Linked DNA regions of Homo sapiens: all the other regions are reported to be linked to region 2. The links are microRNA targets in miRTarBase. Many come from high-throughput screens and were not tested one by one. Region 2 holds a microRNA gene; each other region holds the end of a gene's coding sequence.

What was found. Region 2 holds the annotated microRNA hsa-miR-203a-3p (GUGAAAUGUUUAGGACCACUAG, at 3,905-3,926, opposite strand). A microRNA usually pairs through its seed, bases 2 to 8, with sites in the 3' UTR of a target mRNA and lowers its output. Matches are read on the target gene's strand: a 7mer-m8 pairs with bases 2 to 8, a 7mer-A1 pairs with bases 2 to 7 and ends in A, and an 8mer does both.
Region 1: the mRNA of ARPP19 is a reported target of hsa-miR-203a-3p. Seed matches in the 3' UTR shown: 7mer-A1 at 5,866-5,872, 7mer-A1 at 3,642-3,648, 7mer-m8 at 3,471-3,477 and 7mer-m8 at 1,547-1,553.
Region 3: the mRNA of IL24 is a reported target of hsa-miR-203a-3p. Seed matches in the 3' UTR shown: 8mer at 643-650, 7mer-A1 at 849-855 and 7mer-m8 at 1,199-1,205.

Annotation. Positions count from the first base shown.
Region 1 is chr15:52,545,610-52,552,898 of GRCh38, forward strand. It overlaps ARPP19 (cAMP regulated phosphoprotein 19), which reads right to left. Exons shown (of 3, transcript NM_006628.6): 3 at 1,436-6,495. The coding sequence ends at 6,325. Among named protein-coding and RNA genes, the nearest start is that of ARPP19, 20 kb to the right of the region's middle. RefSeq lists an enhancer at 347-848.
Region 2 is chr14:104,114,106-104,121,394 of GRCh38, reverse strand. It overlaps MIR203A (microRNA 203a), which reads right to left and starts at 3,990; the gene lies at 3,881-3,990. It overlaps ASPG (asparaginase), which reads right to left. Exons shown (of 16, transcript NM_001080464.3): 16 at 5,813-7,289. MIR203B (microRNA 203b) reads left to right here and starts at 3,892; the gene lies at 3,892-3,977.
Region 3 is chr1:206,902,468-206,909,467 of GRCh38, forward strand. IL24 (interleukin 24) reads left to right here. Exons shown (of 7, transcript NM_006850.3): 7 at 509-1,672. The coding sequence ends at 592. It overlaps FCMR (Fc mu receptor), which reads right to left. Exons shown (of 8, transcript NM_005449.5): 7 at 6,995-7,000; 8 at 850-2,680. The coding sequence ends at 2,552. It also overlaps the pseudogene RPL13AP8. Among named protein-coding and RNA genes, the nearest start is that of IL24, 8.5 kb to the left of the region's middle. RefSeq lists an enhancer at 2,251-3,450.

The DNA of each region.
Region 1 (7,289 bases), not on the chromosome of region 2:
ATTAAATAATATGCTTCTCTCCTTACCGTTTTTGACTTAAAATCTGTTTAATCTAAGTATAGCTATTCCTGCATGCTTTTGGTCTCCGTTTGCATGGAAAAATCTTTTCCCATCCCTTTACTTTCAGTCTTATATGTGTCGTTACAAGTGAGATTAGTTCCTTGTAGGCAGCATACAGTTGGGTCATGATTTTGAATCCATTCAGCCACTTTACCTCTTTTAACTGGAAAGCTGTAATCCATTTACAAGATTATTATTGATATGTGAGGGCTTATTTCTGTGATTTTATTATTTCTGGTTGTTCTGTATATCACGAGCTGGTGTTGGCAGTTGCTGCAAGGGGCTGGGTTGGGCCAGTCCCCAGGCCTAGTGGTGGCATATTAGGTGGGTGCCCACTGTGGTGGTAGCAGCAGGTTCAACAGGACTGACATCAGGCCCCCAGGAGTCCTCAGAAGTCAACAATGGTGGACTGAGCTGGGTAATCCCCAGGCCCCTGGATGGCATGCTTGGACACAGGATGTGGAGCCAGACTGAGTGGACCTGTTCTCAAGCCTTCTAGTGGTGTGTGCAGGTGCTGACTGTGGCAGGCAGGGGAAGGGTGATCCTCAGGCTTATAGCAGGATGCTTGTGGTGGCGGTGGCAGGGCAGTGGCTACACTGCAGCTCTGACACTGTGGAGGGCAAGGTTGTTTTCAGTTGCAGCAGCCACACCCAGGAGGCTGTGAGCCTGTGCTTCACTCGTCCATTGGCCCTGGTTACAGCAGCCTGCAGTCAGACCACCACAGGTAGGGGAGTTTGTCCTTGGGGCACATGAAAATGCATGGCAGCTTTACTACTGGGGCAGCAAGGTCTTTGCCAATGGCTGGGCACTTCAGCCCTGTAGGTAGCAGCCAGCTGTGATGGTGGCTATTGGTGGTGAACATCAATGAGGTTCTAGAGATGTGGAGATGCAAGGGCTGTAGGGCCTCTGGGCAGGATGCAGTTTGCAGGGCTAAGCTCTCAATATGGTGCCTTGCTGCAGCTGCTTAGGGCTTTGGGTGGGGGGACGGCATAAGCTCCGTCTCTGGAGCAGTATCTTTTGTGGTCTCCAGGCAGCTCCCTATGTTAGTCTTGGGGTCTGCGAGGGTCTAAAGGCTGTCCTGTGGCTGGGATGCAGGAGTCTGTGGTGAGAATGTGGACTTCTGGCAATCACTCATTTAATCTTTCCAGGCCCCCAGAAGATCCTGGCCAAGTAGGCTGCCTTGCTTCCCTCTCCTACCTTAACTGTTTCCTGTCCTTTTTCTGTTTAATTCCTGAGTTCTCTCTTGAATGATCTAGTTGAGGTGTTATCTCCTCACTATTGTGGCTCTTTGTAGAGAAGCTGAGTACCAGATGTCTCTAGTCAGCCATGTTGAAGCCCCTCCTCTGTAATGTTTCACAAATAAGATGAAAAAGACTCACAATCTGCAAACATTTAATCCTACCTTAAGTACAAAGCCTTTACAAATGCAAAAAAAAAAAAAAAATCAAAGATTACAAGTCAGTTTCTTCCTGCATACAGTAATAGCTGAAATGTAAAGAGATCAACTTCAGAAAAAATACACTGAAAAACATACCACTTTAATAAGACAAAACTGCAAATTAAATCAATAGAAATTAGGTAGATCCATTTATTTTTTAAATACAAGTATAATTTTGGAAGGGGTATTTGACAAATTCAGCATTAACTGCCAACTCTATAGACATGTTTTAACAAAAAGCAAAACAAAACAAAACAAAAAAACAAAACAAGGCATTTACTCTTGGCCCTTTCAGTACAGGCGAAGTGTTCTATTGCATCACAAGTGCTAGTGATGCAGTAACAGATCCAAGGGCATAATATTAAATATGTTTTTTTCCAACTGCGATTTAGTTGAAAAATAACATAATACAAACATATATTAATGGCTATCAAGACCAGCAGTGATCTGCAGAATACCTAGAGGCCTACCTAATTAGAAGGTTGAAACTTAGTAAAACCGTATTAAAGTCAGTGTTTTTATTCTTAGATTAACAATGACAGAGTGAGATATCTTTGATTACAATTTTATAAGGTGTGGTGGGGAATTGAGAGGAGACAGATATTGGGGAAGACTGGCAGTGTGTGCTGAGTTAGAGTTGGGAATGTGGCTCAAATTAGTCAATATTGATTAGGATATTGTTTTAGAAAATTTTAAATGTGTCCTAAATTGTGGCATATTGAAAACGATATTAAGGAACAATGACTCATTAGCCCTAAATACAATTTAATGAGTGCCATCAATGGGCTTAAGAAATAAGCAGGGATGGGGGATAGAGAGGCAAAATGAGGTGAAAGAGAAAATGGAAAGTGGAAAATATGTTTGAACATTGGAGAATGTGAAAAGGCCACCAAACTGCTTTAGTTATCACTCAGAAGTGCTCTTCCCATTGGCTACCTGCTTCTGATCACCCAAACACCAATTTTAGAGCAGAGGAGCAGTAATCCCCTTTATCTGCAATTTCACTTTCTGTAGTTTGTTACCTGAGGCAACCTTGGTCCAAAAATATTATGTGGAAAATTCCAGAAATAAACAATTCATGTTTTAAATCATAAGCCGGCCGGGCATGGTGGCACATGCCTATAATCCCAGCACTTTGGGAGGCCGAGGCGAGTGGATCACCTGAGGTCAGGAGTTCGAGACCAGCCTGGCCAACATGGTGAAACCCCATCTCTACTAAAAGTACAAAAATTGGCTGGGCATGGTGGCGGACGCCTGTAATCCCAGCTACTTGGGAGGCTGAGGCAGGAGAACTGCTTGAACCCAGGAGGCAGAGGTTGCAGTGAGCCAAGATCGCACCACTGCACTCCAGCCTGGGCAAGAGTGAGACTCCATCTCAAAAAAAAAAAAGAATAAAATAAAATAAATCACAAGCCATCCTGAGTGATGAAATCTCATGATCTCCTGCTCTGTCCTGCCTGGGATGTGAATCACCCCTTTGTCCTGCTTATCCACACTGTATACTACCTGCCCCTTAGTCACTTAGTAGCCGCCTTGGTTGTCAGACTGAAAAAACATAGTTGATAAAGGGTTCAGTACTATCTGAGGTTTCAGGCATCCACTAGGGGTCTTGGAATGTATCTCTTACAGATAAGGGGAGACTACTGTATTACATTTCAGCTTCCATAAAACTTTACTAATTTGGATTAAGAACACAAGCCTGATTTAGTAAAAAGTATCCATAAATATTCAGAGGTATAGTTTTGTTTCATCAAGTAAAAAGAGCAACTAATTCCAACTGTTGAAGTAGTAACAAGTAAAGGCTTCACCAGGCTTTCCTTGATGAATAGTTAAGACATATTTTTAGGTCATCAGCACAAGATTATTGAATAACTTGTATGCTACAAACATGCCGCTTCCACTCATCGAAACAAGCCAATAATCCTTACTATTCCAACTTGCTGAGAACCATGTCAGATGCTGCGTTCAAGAATGAAATGTTCCTCAAAACTGTTCTATCAAATGTAGTAGCTATTGGACATAAAACAAGTAATTTATTTCAGACTTTAGTTTTCATGAAGTATTTATCAACAACTTCAATTTATTCCAACATTAATTTATGATAGGACAGTTATTAAAATTAACCATTTCTGAGACTGTAACTTTGAAATTGTAAGAAATGGACAATTAAGCTCACTAGTCAAAATCTTGATTCAAGTGATGATCCAATAGCTTACAAATGTCTTCAATAAACTGAGCTTTGAGGCAGAACAAAAAAAAAACAAAAATCTAAAACCTCTCTATCCCAAGCACCAATAATGGAGGCTAAGCAATTATACCTACAAATCCTTAACGACAGGTCTCTCCTAATGAAAAATCCTGAGATTTAAGCACTGTGACTTACAGAAGGCAGGTTGGCTTAATGAGGAAATTTACTTTTAATAAAAAGACAATCAGCAATATTTTATTTTGGGCACTTAGCATTTCACAGATCCTCAATACATTTTGAGGTAGGTCAAATATTAATTATGTATTTTACAAACAAAACTCAAGCAGTTGTTTTATTACTTGTCCCAAACCACAGGAGCAGTTCTATCGTGGTCAGGAATAACATGGTCTCTGATCTTTCAGATTAATCTTTCATGTGTGAATTTAATGGTAATTACTTGCAAATATTCATGAAAAAAACCAAGACTAGATATAGAAATTCTACTCTGGGTTATTTTAAACTTCTTAAATTGATTCTATAATGAGTATATACTTGCTCTCATTACAAATATATATATATAACTGATCTTTACATTACAAATGACCACAGCAGTGACTGTGTTGCTTTTCTGCCTTTTGGGGTGAGTAGATCAGGAAGATAATCAGCAAGCTTTCCTCAGAGCACTAGGCAGCCTTTAACTTAAGGTGCTATGTTTGAGGCACCATTGACTATGATTTGGGGTCATAGGAGAGCAGGTATACTGATGGAACCAGGATTCAGAAAAGATGCCTGGATCCAAAAACGGGAGGCTCTCTGCAAGTCAAAGATGAAGAGAAAAATAGTAGCATCTCAAGCTACTGATCCTGAGTATCATGCTACAGCATTACAACTACTTGTGAGAGGAGCTCCTACAAGAGCAGTAAACTTGTCCCAGTAAAGTCTGCTAAGTTCTAACTAGATAAGCCACAAGTAAAACTAAATTGGTATTTTACTAAAGTGACATCTACAGAAGCAAACATCTAAACATTTTTAATAGGAGTTTTACCTGTCATGTAAATTACTCTAATTGTCACAAGCCTAATTCAATTAGCTTGTCATAATTCCTAAAATAATTTACCAAAATTCAGCTCATCTTGACATAGGTTCTTGAGCCAGTATTCCGAACCGTTTCATTATAAAGTTCCTTTTATTTAAACAATTGTAGAATATTAGTAATAATAAAGGATCAAGAATAGTTAACTTGAGCCTAGGAGTAAGGTTGCAGTGAGCTGTGATTGCACTACTGCACTAGAGCTCAGGTGACAGAGCAAGGCCCTATCCTAAAAAAAAAAGAGAAAGAAGTTAACAACTGAGAAATTAGAAGGAAAACGCCATTATTGTGTTATATAAAAGAGTAAGGATATAGACACCTATGCTTCCATATACAACAAACAGCTCAATACCATTTGAGTCAAAGAACAAAGGGGAAAAAAAAGCAGGTGGCAGAGGGCATGGAATGCAGAGTATTGAAGCCTTTTATTCTAGGGTCTCCAAAACTGAGTGTGGAAGTAAAAAGTTTCTACATTTAAAAAGTTTATATAAATTACATGAATTGCAACTTTCATAAAAATCAAAATGAAAGGTTCTGCATAGGACAAAAGATATGCCTAAGCAACATATCGTATTTGCACAAGGCCACTGAATGTCATGGATATTAGTAACAAATGAAAAGCTTAAGTCTATGGCAGATTGAACTAAGATTTCAGTTTGGTATTCTATAAGCCCGAGATTGTAAACTACTCTTATTATACAAAAGCTATAATGATTTACAGAGTTTTGTGTAGGAACTCTTGTGCTTCTGGTTGGCACATTATCTACTTTTTAAGTATGTGAAATTAATACAGACATTTGTGAGAGGTTGTGCAAAACTACTGTATTTACAAAAATGGCACAAAAGTGAATTCAACAGTTAATGCACATGCATACTTCATTCACATCTTCAACAACAAAAGGTATTCTAACTCTACAGAACTGAATATTAGCTTCAACGGCAGCTGTTAAGCACTAGAGTCACATAAGTTACACCAGAATGGGCAAATATTGCCCAAGTAAAATTCTACTGTTAAAGCTGAAACAGGTTTAAGGCCATTCAAGTTCAAGCACAGAGATACAAATCTTTCAGAGCCCCATCTAGTTGTGTTTGAAATATGTGACCTTTCTTCTAACTTGTGGTCTTAAACTTCTGTTTTACAAAATCCAAAAGGTAAATACAGAAGAAATCAATACAATAGAGATTATATTAAATAAGAGTAACATACAAAGCTATAATTAAGATGAAGTAATGAAAGCCAAAACATTAAAATTTTAAAACTTGCTTGTTACTTGTTAGAACCAGTACTACACTAGAAGTTAGGTAATATATACAACTATTTTCAAGTAGTTTACTTATGTTGCTCTAACATGTCCTCTTCACCAGTGCACTGTTAAACTAATCAAAAACTCTACACACGTATATTCCACAATAGCAGCACACACTACTGCTACCTGCAAAGCTGTCAGTCTCAAATGACTAGTGAATGAAAGGAAATAAAAAGTAGATAAGTAACATATTAAGGAGAAATAATGAGATTTAGCAGATTCATGCAGTTCAGCCTCTTAATCAGCCAGCCAGCTTGCTAGCAACAAGGGACGGCTTCCGTTGAGGAAGGTCTTGCGGAGTGGGAATGTGGTCACCAGTGACCTCCGTCTTATCCGGAGCTGCAGTAGGAAGTTGCTTGTTCTTCATTTTTGCTTTAGCCATGTTGTAATCCCCAGAATCAAAATATTTTTGCTATAAGTAAAAACAAAAAAAATTCAGATTAGAGCTTAGCAATTACTGATTTAAGATGTCGATGCAACCCCATACTGTCCGTATAAGGTTGGTCTAAAAGAATTTAAACAGGAATATTAATTAGATGAAATAGTCTCTGTACTGAGTTCCAGCATAAGTCAACAGCCGAGAAGCCCCCCTTCAGACTGGGCACAGTGGCTCACTCTTGAAATCCCAACACTTTGGGAGGCCAAGGCAGGCGAAACACTTAAGGTCAGGAGTTCCAGGCCAGCCTGGCCAATATGGCGAAACCCTGTCTCTACTAAAAAAAAACAAAAAAAACAAAAAACAAACATTAGCTGGGTGTGGTGGTGCACATCTGTAACTCCAGCTACTCCAGAGGTTGAGGCTTAAGAGTCATGTGAACCTGGGAGGTGGAGGCTGCAGTGAGCCAAGATTGCCCCACTGCACTCCAGCCTGGGCAACAGAGACTGTCTCACAAAAAAAAAAAAAAAAAAAAAAAAAAGAACCTGCCTTCAGGCTTTCTTGAACCATTCTGGTTCTAATAAAGAACCATCAAGACTAATATAATATTAAGCTATTTGGGAAGTCCCAGACTCAGTGAAATAAAATCTTTCATTTACTAATGGAACAACCAGGTGAAACACTTGCTTAAATTATTTTATAAATAAAACACATAATTTGGCTGGGCATGGTGGCTCATGCCTGTAATCCCAGCACTTTGGGAGGCCGAGTTGGGTGGATCACTTGAGGTCAGAGGTCAGGAGTTTGAAACCAGAACGGCCAATATGGTG
Region 2 (7,289 bases):
CCCCGACAAAGACTGGCGGGCTCAAGGCAACTCAGCTTGTATGTGTGCCCTCCCAGCACAACTTTGCTCCCCGGGCAGCCTCAGAACCACGGAAAGATACTCAGAAAGCCAGTCACAGTGACCCCACAGCCCTGTGACAGATGTGCTGTCCCATGGGGCTTATCTAGTCACCCAGGAAGGAGCCATCATCTGTCCTCCCTCTGATGATTCTCAACTGCAAATATGTTGCCATGGCTTGAGTGCTTGTGACCCTCCAAAATTCATGTTGAAACTTCATCCCCAGTGCAACAGGATGAAGAGCTGATGCCTTCAGCAGCTGAGGAGGCCATGAGTGCTCCACCCTCATGGGTAGGATTTGTGCCTTATAAAAGGGCATGAGGGGGCGAGTTTGCCCTTCCCATCCTTTCTGCTGTTCATCCCTTCTGTCGTGTGAGGACATGGTGTCCCTCCCCTCCAGAGCACCCACGCAAGGCACCAACTTGGAAGCAGAGACTGAGACCTCACAAGCTATTGAACCTGCCAGCACCTTGATCTTAGACTTCCAGCCTCCAGATCCGAAGAAATAAATTTCTCGTGGTTCCTTATAAATTATCCATCTCAGAGGTTTTGTTACAGCAGCACAAATGGCCTGAGACCTGCATATACAATTAGATTCCATGAGCCTCGAGTGGGCACCCCCAGACCCTGGCCTGGCAGGTTACCTGTTCAGCGGGCGCTATGGACTCCTCTGGGGAAGGACAGAGAGGCTAAGATGCAAATTCTACTCTAGGCTCCTGCTCCCAGGGAGTAGAGGCCAGGCACCACCCATAGCTGCAGATTCAGGACCTGTCTCCCCTTCCCCCAGCCTGTCTCTCTTCCTGAGGTCTCTCGCCTAAGACAGCTGCTGTCAGCCTTGGGCATTTATCAGGCTCGCCTGGGAACTTGGTGAAGACCCAGATCCCTGCCACCCATCCTACTCACTGAGCCTGGGCCTCTGCAGTGAGTCAGAACCCCTGCCTTCACATACTGGTTTAGCTACTTTAACAGAGACCAAAATAACACTGGCTTTAAAAGGCAGAAGGTTCCTTTCTCTTGTGGAAAAGACAAGCTGTTCAGCTGTCCAAGTGGGTAGGGCAGCGTGTACATGAGCTGGTCCCACGTAGGGTGATCAGCAGTCCCAGTTTGCCCCAGACTCAGAAGATTCCAAGAACGTTTCGGTGCCAAATCAGGAAACACGCAGGCACACCTGGACAGGTGGGTCGGCCTCATGCAGGGATGCTTTGCCCTGCCCCGGCGTGGCCCTCCAGCAGCACAGTCGGCACGTCTCAGCACCACAGTGCCCCAGTTCCACCCAGAAGTTGCATCTGCCTCTGTTCACACTCCCCTGTGTAGAGGTGGCATGTGTCTCCACCAGCAGCCCAGGAGCCCCACGTGCCCAGCTTCCCTTCAGGAATTCCATGGCTGAAGGAATGGACCCCGAGGAGCCATCCTCCACCTGGGTCAGGGGCAGAGGCTGGAGAGGCCGGAGTGGAGGGGCTGGGGTGCCAGGAAGCACAGGTCTAGTCTCAGCAAAGTAGGGGCCTGTCCTCCTGGTGTCCCCAGGGACCAAGTAGGGGCCTGTTGTAAGACCACACCTCATTGCCACCTGAGGCCTTCCATTGGTCCTCCGAGGCCCTGGCTGAAATTCGGCCTCTTCAAGGATCCCCCACTGGCCCTCCCACCACATCAGCTCCAGTGACAGCTTGAGCTCTGCCCTGCTGAGCACTCAGGAAGTGTGCTGCATCATGTCAGGGGAACCTCCAGCGAGCTCCACGTCATCCTACAGAAGGAAGAAACAGGTCCTCCGAGGGGATAAGGGACTTGCCAAGGTCACTTGCTTGTAGGCATAGAGCTGGGGTTTGAATGCACGACAGACTCTCGGTCCCCTGTGCCAGAGGCAGGGAGGGTGGAGGAAGGTGCCTCTGTCTCTTCAATCCCTCAACCCTCCCACCTTGCCCATTCTCCTGGCCAGGTCCCCAGGGCCAGCCTACAGGCTCCAGCGGGAATGAGTGGGAGCCAGCCAAGGGAGCAGTGTTGTGGTGAGTGGGGGGAGTGGGAGCAGGCTGGAGCCCCTGAAAGTGGGGCCCCTGGGAGCCAAGCCCTTTCCCCAGCCTGGCTCCTTGAGGCAGTGCAGCTCAAACCCGAGGGAGGGGGTCTGGCCCAGTGGCCCAGGGGAGGTCACTGCAACGAGAAAGCTGGTGGCAGAGGCTGGGGGCTTCCCTGGAGACCAAAGTGCCAGAGGCAGAGTTGAGGGAGGGTCTTGGGTAAGGACCAGGCCACTGCCCCTCCACCAACCATCCTCATTTCTGCTTCTCTGAGATTAGAAGGAAAAGGCTGGCTTGCTTTCAAGGGAGAAACCACGCTGAGGCCTGGGGGAAAAGGACAAGCACCCCAGGGACACAGCGATGCTTTGGAACATGTTTATTGTCATCAGTCTAAATTGTACAGACGCACACCGGACAGAATGCCTCCAAGCCGCAGAACAGGGACACAGCCGCCATCTCCCACCTGAGCCTCAGCCCCTCTCACGGGGCTGCTGAGGGCTGAGGGCCCATGCAGAGGGCACGGGGGAACGTGCTTGTAAAATGAAATGGCTACAGGGGGCTGCGGTGGTCAGCAGGCAGCAGCTGGGGAAGACACTCCAACCCCTCCGATGCCACAGACCCACTGGGCGCTCCCACGGCCCCAAGCTCTGAAGCCAGATCCTGAGAGGTGGCCACAATGGCATTTGCTGAGCAACAGAGGAGGCACTGGCCAGTGGTGGATGCTCTCCCGGGAACTCCACTCCCCCCACCTGGGTGGCCAGGGGACCTTGCTGTCCTGCTGCTGGCCCTCTTCTGGAACAGCCCTCCACAGTCACCTCCTGTCTCCTCACATCAACCCCCTATGTGTGCAGGTCGGGCTCAGAGAGGGCAGGTGACTGGCCCAAGGCCACCCTAGCAGGCCTCAAACCCAGGCCTGTCTGACCCATCTCCCAGGACTCCCCGCAGCTCTCTAAACACTGGGTGAGGAGGTGGGGACTGGAGGGGGACCCTCCACCCCAGAGGACACAGCAGGCCAGGCAGCACCAGGCAGAAGACCCCGGCCCCTGGCTGGAGGTGGGGACAGATTCGACCCTTTGCTGAGTCCCTCCCAGGGCCGCCCGGGGCTTCACACGCAGATTGACGCGCACACCTCTCCTGTGGGCGCTAGCTACCACGAGGTTCCAGGGAGGCTCCGGCGAAGGCACCTGTCATCATGGGCGCCGCTTCTCCTCTACCTGGGTGTAGTCTGCAAACTTCCTCCCCACCCCCAGTTCCTGTGCCTCGAGGTCCTTCACGAGTTTAGCGCGCACTCGTAGGAGCCGCGCAGCGCTCCCTAAGGCCTCAGTGAGTGGAGACGCTCCGGGGAGCCGGCAGCGGGAACCATCGGCCGCCCAGCAGGGTGCGGCTGCCGGCAGCCTGATGGGCAGCTCCCAGGAAGCCCAGGGCAAGGAGCGCTCCTCAACCCTACGGGCCCACCGCCAGTTCCTCGCTGGGAATTCCACGGAGTTTCGAGGTGCGGGCCCTCGGGGTGCAAGAGGGCGGCGGCGGCGTCTCCAGGCCGGCAGCGCGCCAGGAGCGTGGGCAACCCAGCGCGCCCCCACCCAGCGGTTCCCACAGCACAGCCCGGCCACGCCCGGCCACCTCCCAGCAGCACTTGGCTCTCCGGCCGAGGGTCTTCCCTGGCAGCAGGTGGAGCCAGCCAGGCCCTGGGGACTGCGGGGCGCGGCGCATGGGGCGGCCGACCTGGAGCGCGGAGCCGGTCCGTGGGCTCCCCTGGATTGGTCGCCGGCGCACCCCTGACTGTGACTCTGACTCCAGGCCGCGCGTGGGACGCTCCGTCGCTGTCGCCGCGCCCGCCGGGTCTAGTGGTCCTAAACATTTCACAATTGCGCTACAGAACTGTTGAACTGTTAAGAACCACTGGACCCAGCGCGCGAGTCCCCAACACCGTCGGTTCGCCGAGCTGCGGAGAGAGGAGCCCCCGACGCCCTTGGGACCGCCCGCGTCGCCTGCGGATCCCGGGGACCGGCCCCTGCGCCCAGATCCCCGCTGGTCGCGCACCCCCTGCCCTGCTGCAGCCACCCGGCCCCGACGCCGTACCGGACGCCTTAGACGCCCTCGCCTGGCGCTGGGGGATCCCAGCCGCCAAGCCCAGCCCCGCCGCGTCCTCGCTGGCCCCGGCGTCCCCTCGTCCCGCGGGCCCCGCGTGGCAGGGCGGCTGAGCTCCGAGCGGCGGTGGCCAGCGCGGCGGCGCCTTTTATGCGGCGCAGCCGCCCTTCCCGGCGCCGGAATGTGCCCGCGCCGCGCTGGCCCGACCGGTTTTTCCGGGCGGGGCGGCTCCCGGGCCCATAGGTCCCGCGACTGATCCTCCACGGCCCGGGGACCTGCTCCGCGCGCCCGCGCGGGGGTGGCCCTGACTCAGCGGCCGCCCCGCCCCATCCGGCGCCCCAGCCTCCAGCGCCTGGCCTGGGCGCACCTGGCCTCCCGGGTTCTGGGTCCCCGCCGGGCCACGCCCGAACCGTCTCGTCTGGGCCGGGGGTGCTCGGGCGCACGGAGGGCCCGGGGCTCCACCTTGGCCGGGTCGAGGCCCAGGGTGGCCGGAACAGGTGAGGACCAGCGCCCGACAGGAGCCCAGGGCCGCGCTAGCTCTCCGGTGGGTGTGGGGGCTGGGCTGGACACACCCACCCCAGCCCCTCTCACTTCAAAGGGAACTTCGTGGGAGGGGGAAGGGGAGGGGTAAAGAGAAAGTGAAACTGGAGGGAGGGAGGTTTCTGCTTCTCAGACCCTGAACCCCCACCCCGCAGCCCACAGGGGTAGCCCCGTACCTGCCTCCTCATTTCCCACGCGGGGGGAGGGACGCCCTACCCCCTCACGCAGCAAGGGCCTGAGCCTCGCTCCCCCCACTCACAGCCCAGCCCCGAACGTCCTGGCGCAGCTGGCCCTGCCGGTCCTACCCACTTAGTCACCTGGAGGTGTCCAGGCCTGACCAGTGGCGCCTCCCAGGGACTCTGCTTCAGCAGAACATGGCAGCTGAGGGGAGGGCTCAGGCTCTAGGAAATACCCTAGAGCCCCCTTCAGCACTTGCCCCAAGTCTGGAGCCATTAGTGTGTCTGTATGGGGTTGGGCAGCAGGGTGGTGACCATTCATTCCAGTGCAGGGCGGTGACACGCCATCCCACCACCCGCCCAGCCAGCCAGGAGCCAAGTGCTCAGGAGCCAAGGTGAGCCCCAGACCAGAACACAGCCACCAGATCTGAGGGACCCCCCAGACATTTCCACATGGGCCGCGTGTGGCTCAACCACCGCAGCCACCCTGGAAAGGGAATCAGAAAGGTTTTGTTATTTTCATTTTGCAGTTGGGGAAACTGAGGCTCAGGGAGGGACAGTGACTTCTGGGGATTGCACAGCTCTTGGTGGTAGAGAAGGGATGACAGGCCTTGCCATCGCTGCATCTGTGGGTCTCAGTGCCTGGGTGTGGAGTCCGAGGGGCTGCGGCATGGGGGTGGGGATGGAAGTGGGCATAGGGGAGCTTGAGATCAAGAACAGGAGCTTGGGAGCTCCTCCCCCAACACAACTGCATGGGCAAGAAGAACCCACCTCTCTTCTTTTCTTTTTTTTTTTCTTTTTTTTTGAGACCTAGTCTTGCTGTGTTGCCCAGGCTGGAGTGCAGTGGTGCGATCTTGGCTCGCTGCAACCTCCATCTTCCCAGTTCAAGCGATTCTCCCACCTCAGCCTCCCAAGTAGCTGGGACCACAGACACAAACCACCACACCTGGCTAATGTTTTTATTTATTTTTTAAGAGACAGAGTTTCGCCATGTTGGCTGTTCTCAAACTCCTAGGCTCAAGCTATCCACCCGCCTCGGCCTCCCAAAGTGCTGGGATTGCAGGTGTGAGCCACCAAGCCTGGCCACCACTCCTTAATTCTAAGTTCTGGTCTAGCCCAGTCCTGGGCAGACTCTTCCCGACGCACAGCCACTTGGATGGGCTCCCCTCGCCCAGGTGGCTCCCGTGTCCAGCATCCAAGGGAACTGACGAGAGAGGACGGGGAGAAGGTGACAAGTACAAGCACCTGCAGTTCCCACCAGCAGCAGGAAATATTGAGGTGTGACCAGAAGGGGAACTTCCTAGCATACACGAGAAATCTGGTTACCTCCAGCTGGGGAAGGGCGGTCCTGGAGGGCCCTCAGCTGAGGAGTCTGATTTTAGGATAGAAAATGCTGGTGAAAAAGACAGTAGTCGTGATGGAGAGGAGATGTTCCCCAGAGATAGCCCTGGGATCCAGGTGATTCGAGATGGGCTATAGGAACCAAGGCCTCCCCCAGCGTGAAATTACCAGGTGTGAGCGGCGCCACCCCACTGTGGGGAGGCGGGTCCCACGGGCACTGGGCACCTGGCTGTGCCTCATTCCTGAGTCTCCCACAGCCTCACACCACAGCAAGAGACAAGGCGGCCCTGATTCACAGCCCAGCTCTGCCCTGTGCCAACGCAGAGCCCTGGGCGCAGGACGGGGCCACTCTGTGCCTTAGCTTCCTCAGCCATGAAGTAGGATAGACGGGGACCCGGTGCCCTCCTACAGGCACAGTGGGGACGAAACACACCAACGCGGCGCAGGACACGAACGCTCCAAGCCTGTCTGTCCCGGCTGTTCCCACTGCACGCCAGAGAGCCAGAGGCCTTGGGGCCAGGTCACTGCCCAGCTCAGAGCCCAGGGAGCCCCGAGCAGTGGCCCTGCACCTCCTGCCACTTCTGGGTGATTCTAGAGGAGTCCCCTTACCCAGGGCCCCTCTGGCCTCTCCCCAAGGGGCACAAAACGGCCCCCGAGAAAGCTCCCAGACTCAAGCCTATGACTCTTCACAGCCTCCTGAGACACTGGCCCAGTCCCGGGGCTCCCTGTGGTAGGGCCCTACATCCCACGAGGGTTTGGAGGGGACTGACAATGGGGGTCTGGCTGCCCAGCCTTGTGAGGAGCTCTCCCCATCTGCCCAGCCCGTGGCCCCCAAGCCGTCTCTGCCGAACTCCATCAGTGACCCAGTTGGAGAAAGGCCAGCTTGACAAATGCTCTCTGCGGGACAAGCAGGATGAGTGGGCGTTTCTACACTACAGGACACTCACCCCCGGCATCAGTCGGTGTGTCTACACTGGCAGGTTGGCACCTGCTCTGGGAGGGTGCTGCCATGTGGGCTAACGTGAGCCACCTGCAGCTTTCACAACCCGGAGCAGCACTGAGTGGGGTGGCGTGAGCAACA
Region 3 (7,000 bases), not on the chromosome of region 2:
AATTATGGGAAATTATTTTTGCTTTTCCAAAATTATGACAACAAAGAAAACCCAAATTTCATCCCCAGCCCCCCTAAAAACATAAATGATTTCGATCACTTTTTTTTTTTTGAGGAAGAGATGCATCAGCTTTTAAATAAATGGTGAAGAGCAATAACATCTGATGGAGAGGGGCCACCTGGGCTCATTTCACCTGTGCAGTGGATTCAGGTGGTGGGCCATATCCATCCCATACTGCAGTTTGTGGTTGCTGTTGTTAGGGGTGCCATATGTCTTTCCCTTGTTCTTTGTCCACTGATATTCACTAGCCTGTTTGTCCTCACCCCTGAAGCAGATAAACACATGTAGATGGAGGAAAAGTGACAGGCAGGTGGGTTCATCAGTGGGCTCATCCCAAAGGTGACCCATCCCTTGGATTGGAGTCAGGTCTATTTTAGGCATGGCAGGTTGGAAGAAAGACTATTCTCATAGCTAACATGGCTGACCTTCAACCCTCTTTTCCCTTTAGTTGGACGTAGAAGCAGCTCTGACCAAAGCCCTTGGGGAAGTGGACATTCTTCTGACCTGGATGCAGAAATTCTACAAGCTCTGAATGTCTAGACCAGGACCTCCCTCCCCCTGGCACTGGTTTGTTCCCTGTGTCATTTCAAACAGTCTCCCTTCCTATGCTGTTCACTGGACACTTCACGCCCTTGGCCATGGGTCCCATTCTTGGCCCAGGATTATTGTCAAAGAAGTCATTCTTTAAGCAGCGCCAGTGACAGTCAGGGAAGGTGCCTCTGGATGCTGTGAAGAGTCTACAGAGAAGATTCTTGTATTTATTACAACTCTATTTAATTAATGTCAGTATTTCAACTGAAGTTCTATTTATTTGTGAGACTGTAAGTTACATGAAGGCAGCAGAATATTGTGCCCCATGCTTCTTTACCCCTCACAATCCTTGCCACAGTGTGGGGCAGTGGATGGGTGCTTAGTAAGTACTTAATAAACTGTGGTGCTTTTTTTGGCCTGTCTTTGGATTGTTAAAAAACAGAGAGGGATGCTTGGATGTAAAACTGAACTTCAGAGCATGAAAATCACACTGTCTTCTGATATCTGCAGGGACAGAGCATTGGGGTGGGGGTAAGGTGCATCTGTTTGAAAAGTAAACGATAAAATGTGGATTAAAGTGCCCAGCACAAAGCAGATCCTCAATAAACATTTCATTTCCCACCCACACTCGCCAGCTCACCCCATCATCCCTTTCCCTTGGTGCCCTCCTTTTTTTTTTATCCTAGTCATTCTTCCCTAATCTTCCACTTGAGTGTCAAGCTGACCTTGCTGATGGTGACATTGCACCTGGATGTACTATCCAATCTGTGATGACATTCCCTGCTAATAAAAGACAACATAACTCAAGTCTGGCAGACTTTCTTCTCTATTTCTGGATGAATGCCCAGTGAGACTGTGTTGTACAGCTAGAAAAGGCCTTCTTCCCAATAGCAAGGCTGTGCATCTAGCCTCAAGCTCTGGCTGAACTTTGTGGTCGACATCAATCTAAAGATACAGTGTCTGACTATAACCTTGTTCCAAAAACCTAGGCAAAGAGTATATGTAGGAGGTGGGATATCACTTCCATGACATAAGTGCTATTGCAGAGCCGTGGCCACCCAGGAACTCCTGACTGCTTTCCTTCCCCTGCTTGCTATACATTGTCTGGAACTGGCTAAGAAATGGGGAACATTTGTGAAAACCAAGAAATGTAATGGTTTTGGATGAATAAAATAGACCAAAGTTAAGGTAAGTGCACAAATATCAGTGTCAGGCTATGGAAGAAAGATAAAGAGATACTTTTTTTTTTTTTTTTTTAGAGGGGAGATGCTGAGGTCAGGGCACTTATGTGCATCAAGTGATGGAGACAGAGTAAAGAGAATTTATGGATATATATGCATATCTTGCTAATAAGTTTGGTTTATCATCACATCAAGATAAATTGCCTTTAGCATAGAACTTGAGATAAGTAGACGTTCACTAGCAAGTGCTAACATTTGGATCAGGGCAAAGGCGTTTCCAGGAGTGTTTTTATACCAGACCCCTGCTTAGTCCATGGGGCTGAGGCATGTCACATAACTCAGAGCAAGAGCCTTCTATTTGTGTAAGACCCAACCCTGGGAAGGATGCCCGAGACAATAGCTATGCCTCTGCCCCAGCCTGATGCCATGTGATCTAGAGCCTGGGCAGCAACAACCCTGTGGTCAAAGACATGGAAGAAACACTCTGCAAATCCCACAGTCTGTTCGACGGCTTGGAAAGGAAGCAAGTGGCATTGGGACAATTGCTCTACATGCCTACAGCTTACCTGTCAACTACAGGGGGCTGCCAAGGTGTGCAAGACGACCTGGGGGCAGAGCCATGCTCAGGGCACAGATAGATGGGGATGGGAGTCGAGATGGGGCATGGGAAGTGATGAGGGCTCTGAGAACACATGAAGCAGGTATTGGACATCAGCAGATAGATGAGACTCCTTGGCACCACAGTCCGAGCCTGGGGTTGGGGGATAGCTGGGGAGTTGTCAGGCAGGAACATTGATGTAGTCATCTGAATCACTGTCCTCCATCATGGCGGCAGGCTGGTGGTAGAGGCTCACGTATTCACAGCTGGTCTTCAGAGATGGGGCATGGAGCCAGGGAGATTCAGACACCTGGGGACAATGAAAGAAGCATCACTGGATCTGGGTAGGGTGATTTTAATATCTCCCCAGGTGGATTTTCATAGTGGGCAATGGGGCATGGACATGGCTGCTGAGTTCCAGAAGGCAAAGACACAGAGATGGCTCAGCTCCATCAAGTGGAGTAGCCCTGGGGATTTTCAGGGTAGTGTCTCACCTGAGATAACTGGAAAACCTAATGTGGGCAGGAAATGCCTTAAATGGGGCTCAGAGTAAAATCATGTGGCTAAGCATGGGCCTGAAAGAGACCCAGCTGCCAGAGGAGTATCCCCTCGGGGATAAGATGCTGTGACTTATGGCATAAATATGCATCTTCTTAGGGAGTTATTCAGAAGTAGAGTGAGTCACCCTCAGCACCTCTGTAAGGGCTCAGAGATGCTGTGATGTGGCGTCGTGACAGTGCATTCCAGGAAGGGGGATGGATGGTGAAGGGGATAAGATGGCAGCCCACATGGAACACTGGTGCTCCTCTTCCCCAGACAGAAACTTCAGGATCATCCACCTTGAGGACAGTCAGTTCTCAAAAGACAGGACTGTGCCAGTGACCCCAACATGGCACAGTTACTATCTCATCCACTGAGGAAGGCCACAAGGGGGACAGTTATGTATTTAAACACAAGCTCTGAGAATTAGACGTCCAGCAGCCTGAATATAGTAGGCATTCAGGAAGTACTCATTGAAAGGAACTTTTATATATTTTGTACTTTACTAAAGAGGGAAGCAGCAGCAGCTTGCTTTGAAAACATGTTTTCCATCAGTCAAGGAAGTAAGAAGCCACAAAACAGAAAAGAAAAAAAGAGAGAAGGTTGAAAAGAAAAGTAACAGTGAGAGCAAAGAAAACTAAGCAACAAAATTACATGGTCCTGGTATAAATGTCAGTGAGGATGAAACTCAGTCAAGTAATCAGTGAAAGACAGCTAATAAGCACATGTTGGTAGCACTCCACTTAGATGATATAAGACCAGTCAAGAAAGACCTGGATCCCAGAACAGCTCAAGATGTCAACCCGAAGCAAATTAACCAGCACATAACAATAGGAGAAACGATACACAAAGTTGGAGGTGACACAGAGAAATGAGAGATGATCAAGATAAAATTTCCAGGGTGGGAAGGAAGGTGGTAATACCTGAGCTTCCTTTAGAGGCCAAAGAAGAGACTGAGGACGGGAAGAAGATGAGGCTGAGGATGGGGAAGAGGATGAGGCAGAGGAAATCCTCGATGTATGACATGATTTTGTTTTTGTTAAATTAAACGAACTTTGAAAAAAGTGAGCAAGTCCTTTGTTAGTTTTTCACACTATCTTCTATTATGTTTTAATTAACTTTCTTTGTCTGAAATAGAGATGGTTTTAGATTTGCTAAAAAACAAAAATTTGTCTTTCACTGCCTGTTATAGTTCATCATTTGAGATTAACTTATTTGGCTTAAGAAATGGAAATGCTCCCCATGGAAGCTATAATAATGAGTCATTAAGCATAGGCACCTTTTTGTAAATTTGTTCCATCAAGATTTTTGCCCCTAATAGTGGGAATGAGAGTTTCAAGTAGAGAGGCAGGGTCAGCTTGGAACAAGGTGCAGGCCCAGGTGAGGGTCTGTGTGGTCACAGGGCAGTTTTAGAGAAAAGGGCTGCTGGAAAGACGGAGTAGACAGACAGTGTGGCGCCTGTTGTCCCTCCTGGTTGCTGCACCATCCTCTGGAGTCAATGGTCAGTATTCAGGTACCAGGACCTTGTGCACATATTTTCGAAGCAAGCTGCTGCTGCTTCCCTCTTTAGTAAAGTACAAAATATATCAAAATTCCTTTCAATGAGTACTTACTGAATGCCTACTATGTTCAGACTGCTGAACACTGCCACGCGGGTGTGAACCTTCTCTAGCGGGGGTGGGGAAGGGCAAGCCGGAGAAGCCGGGGGGTGGGGGGGTGGGGGGGTGGGGGGGGGGTGGGGGCGGGGTGGGGACTGCGCAGAACTGCCTCTTGTTGCTGGGTACCACTCTCTTCTTTGTAGCCAGGCCCACGATTGACCAGCTGGGGATTAAATTTCTCAGCCTGCCTTGAAGGGAGGTTCACTACATGGTTAAGTTTCAGCCTCTAGGATGCAAGTGGAAATGGTGGGAAACGTCAGGGTCATGGGCTTAAGAAGCAGCATTCTCTTCCTCCCTCCTGTAAGCTGGGACGTGCACACGGTCCTGGTGCCTGTGTACTGACCATGGAGCTGGCAAGACTCCAGAGGATGGCGCAGCAACCAGACAGAGGGAATTTCAGTCCCGAGATGACCTCTTGGCTCACTGGCTCAGGCCACCTCTTCCTGTCCCTGTCTGAGCCTTTATTTGGGGAGGGGGAAGTAGGCTTCCACCGTGTGGGCCCTGTCTTTTGGAGTCTGCTGCATTAGCTTAGTCTACATGCGAATTAAACAAGGGATTTTCTTTTCCCAGGCGGCTGCCGAAGATGGCGGGGGTGCAGGTCCTGGTGCTTGATGGTGGAGGCCATCTCCTGGGCCCCCTGGCGGCCATCGTGGCTAACTAGGTACTGCTGGGCTGGAAGGTGGTTGTCGTACGCTGGGAGGGCATCAACATTTCTGGCAATTTCTACAGAAACAAGTTGAAGTACCTGGCTTTCCCCCGCAAGCGGATGAACACCAACCCTTCCCGAGGTCCCTACCACTTCCCGGCCCCCAGCCGCATCTTGTGGCACAAGTACGAGGCTTGCTGCCCCAAGAGACCAAGTGAGGCCAGGCCGCCCTGGACCACCTCAAGGTGTTTGACGGCATCCTACTGCCCTACGACAAGAAAAAGCGGATGGTGGTTCCTGCTGCCCTCAAGGTCGTGCGTCTGAAGCTTACAAGAAAGTTTGCCTATCTGGAGCGCCTGGCTCACGATGGTGGCTGGAAGTACCAGGCAGTGATAACCACCCTGGAGGAGAAGTGGAAGGAGAAGGCCAAGTTCCACTACAGGAAGAAGAAACAGCTCATGAGGCTACGGAAACGGGCCGAGAAGAACGTGGAGAAGAAAACTGACAAATACACAGAGGTCCTCAAGACCCACGGGCTCCTGGTCTGAGCCCAATAAAGACTGTTAATTCCTCATGCTTGGCCTGGCCTGCCCTTCCTCCATCGTCGCCCTGGAATGTGCGGGACCCAGGGGCAGCAGCAGTCCGGGTGCCACAGGCAGCCTGGGACATAGGAAGCTGGGAGCAAGGAAAGGGTCTTAGTCACTGCTTTCTGAGGTTACTTGAAAGCACTCAGGGAATTGTGCAGGTGTAATTTATCTATGACCAATAGGAAGAGCAACCAGTTACTATTAGCAAAAAGGAGTCGGAAGACTAATTGGAGGGGCCCTACCTTGTGAGTGGGGCGTCTGTTTAACTTTCCACCTGGTAATATAGCTCTGCAGCTGTTAGAATGTGCAAGCGCTTGGGGACAACATGAGCTTGCTGTTGTACAAAGGGTATTTATAGAACCATAGACTGGGAAGATGTGCGACCAAGGGGTTACAGGAATTGCCTGTGCTCCTCACCTGTATTTTGTAATCAGGATCAAATAAATTATTTTTAAAGAAAAAAAAAACAGGGATTTTTACCACACCCTTTTAAAAAAAGCTTTATTCTGGGCTCTGCGTGTTTTGGACACTGTAGGCTGCTTTAGAGAATAAAAAGCTTTCTCATCTCAATTCTTAAAGATGAACGGATAAAGGCTTTCTACCCAACCATCAGTGGCCCTGAGTGGAAACGCGAGTTCCCTCCATCCACTCTAGATTTAAAGATGAATCCTCCTCACTCAAGGTGTTGAACCCTGTCTACATCTCTCCCAAGTCATCCTCTAGCCAAGCTTAACCGCCTCCAGAGAAAGGTAAATTACCTCCTCTCATCTTCGAGAGTTTACTAGAAAGTTCTCGCGCACAGGAAGGTGAACTGTCTAGGTAGCTTCCACCTCCCTAGGACCCCCTAGAAATCTAATCTCCTCCACGAGAAAGCCTTTCACATAACTGTGGAGCTGCCACCTATCATTCTCTGCTAAGCCAGCTGCATCCAGCACGCAGGTATCCCGTGACAACTGCTTGGCTAGAAGCCACGGAACCAGGTCTTCTACAGTTCCCGGTATTCAACCTCCTGACACCAAACAAGGAGGAAACTAAAACAACTTGTTCCTCGGCTCAGGGCCCAGGAGCTGCTGGGAAACCCGCTCTCCGGATCGCGGCGGCGGCGGCGCGGGAAGCCACACTCGGGTCCCCGCCCAGGGCTGGGGCCGCCCAGTCGGGCCGCGGCTGCCAATCAGGGCAGGAGCGGAGCTTACCTGCAG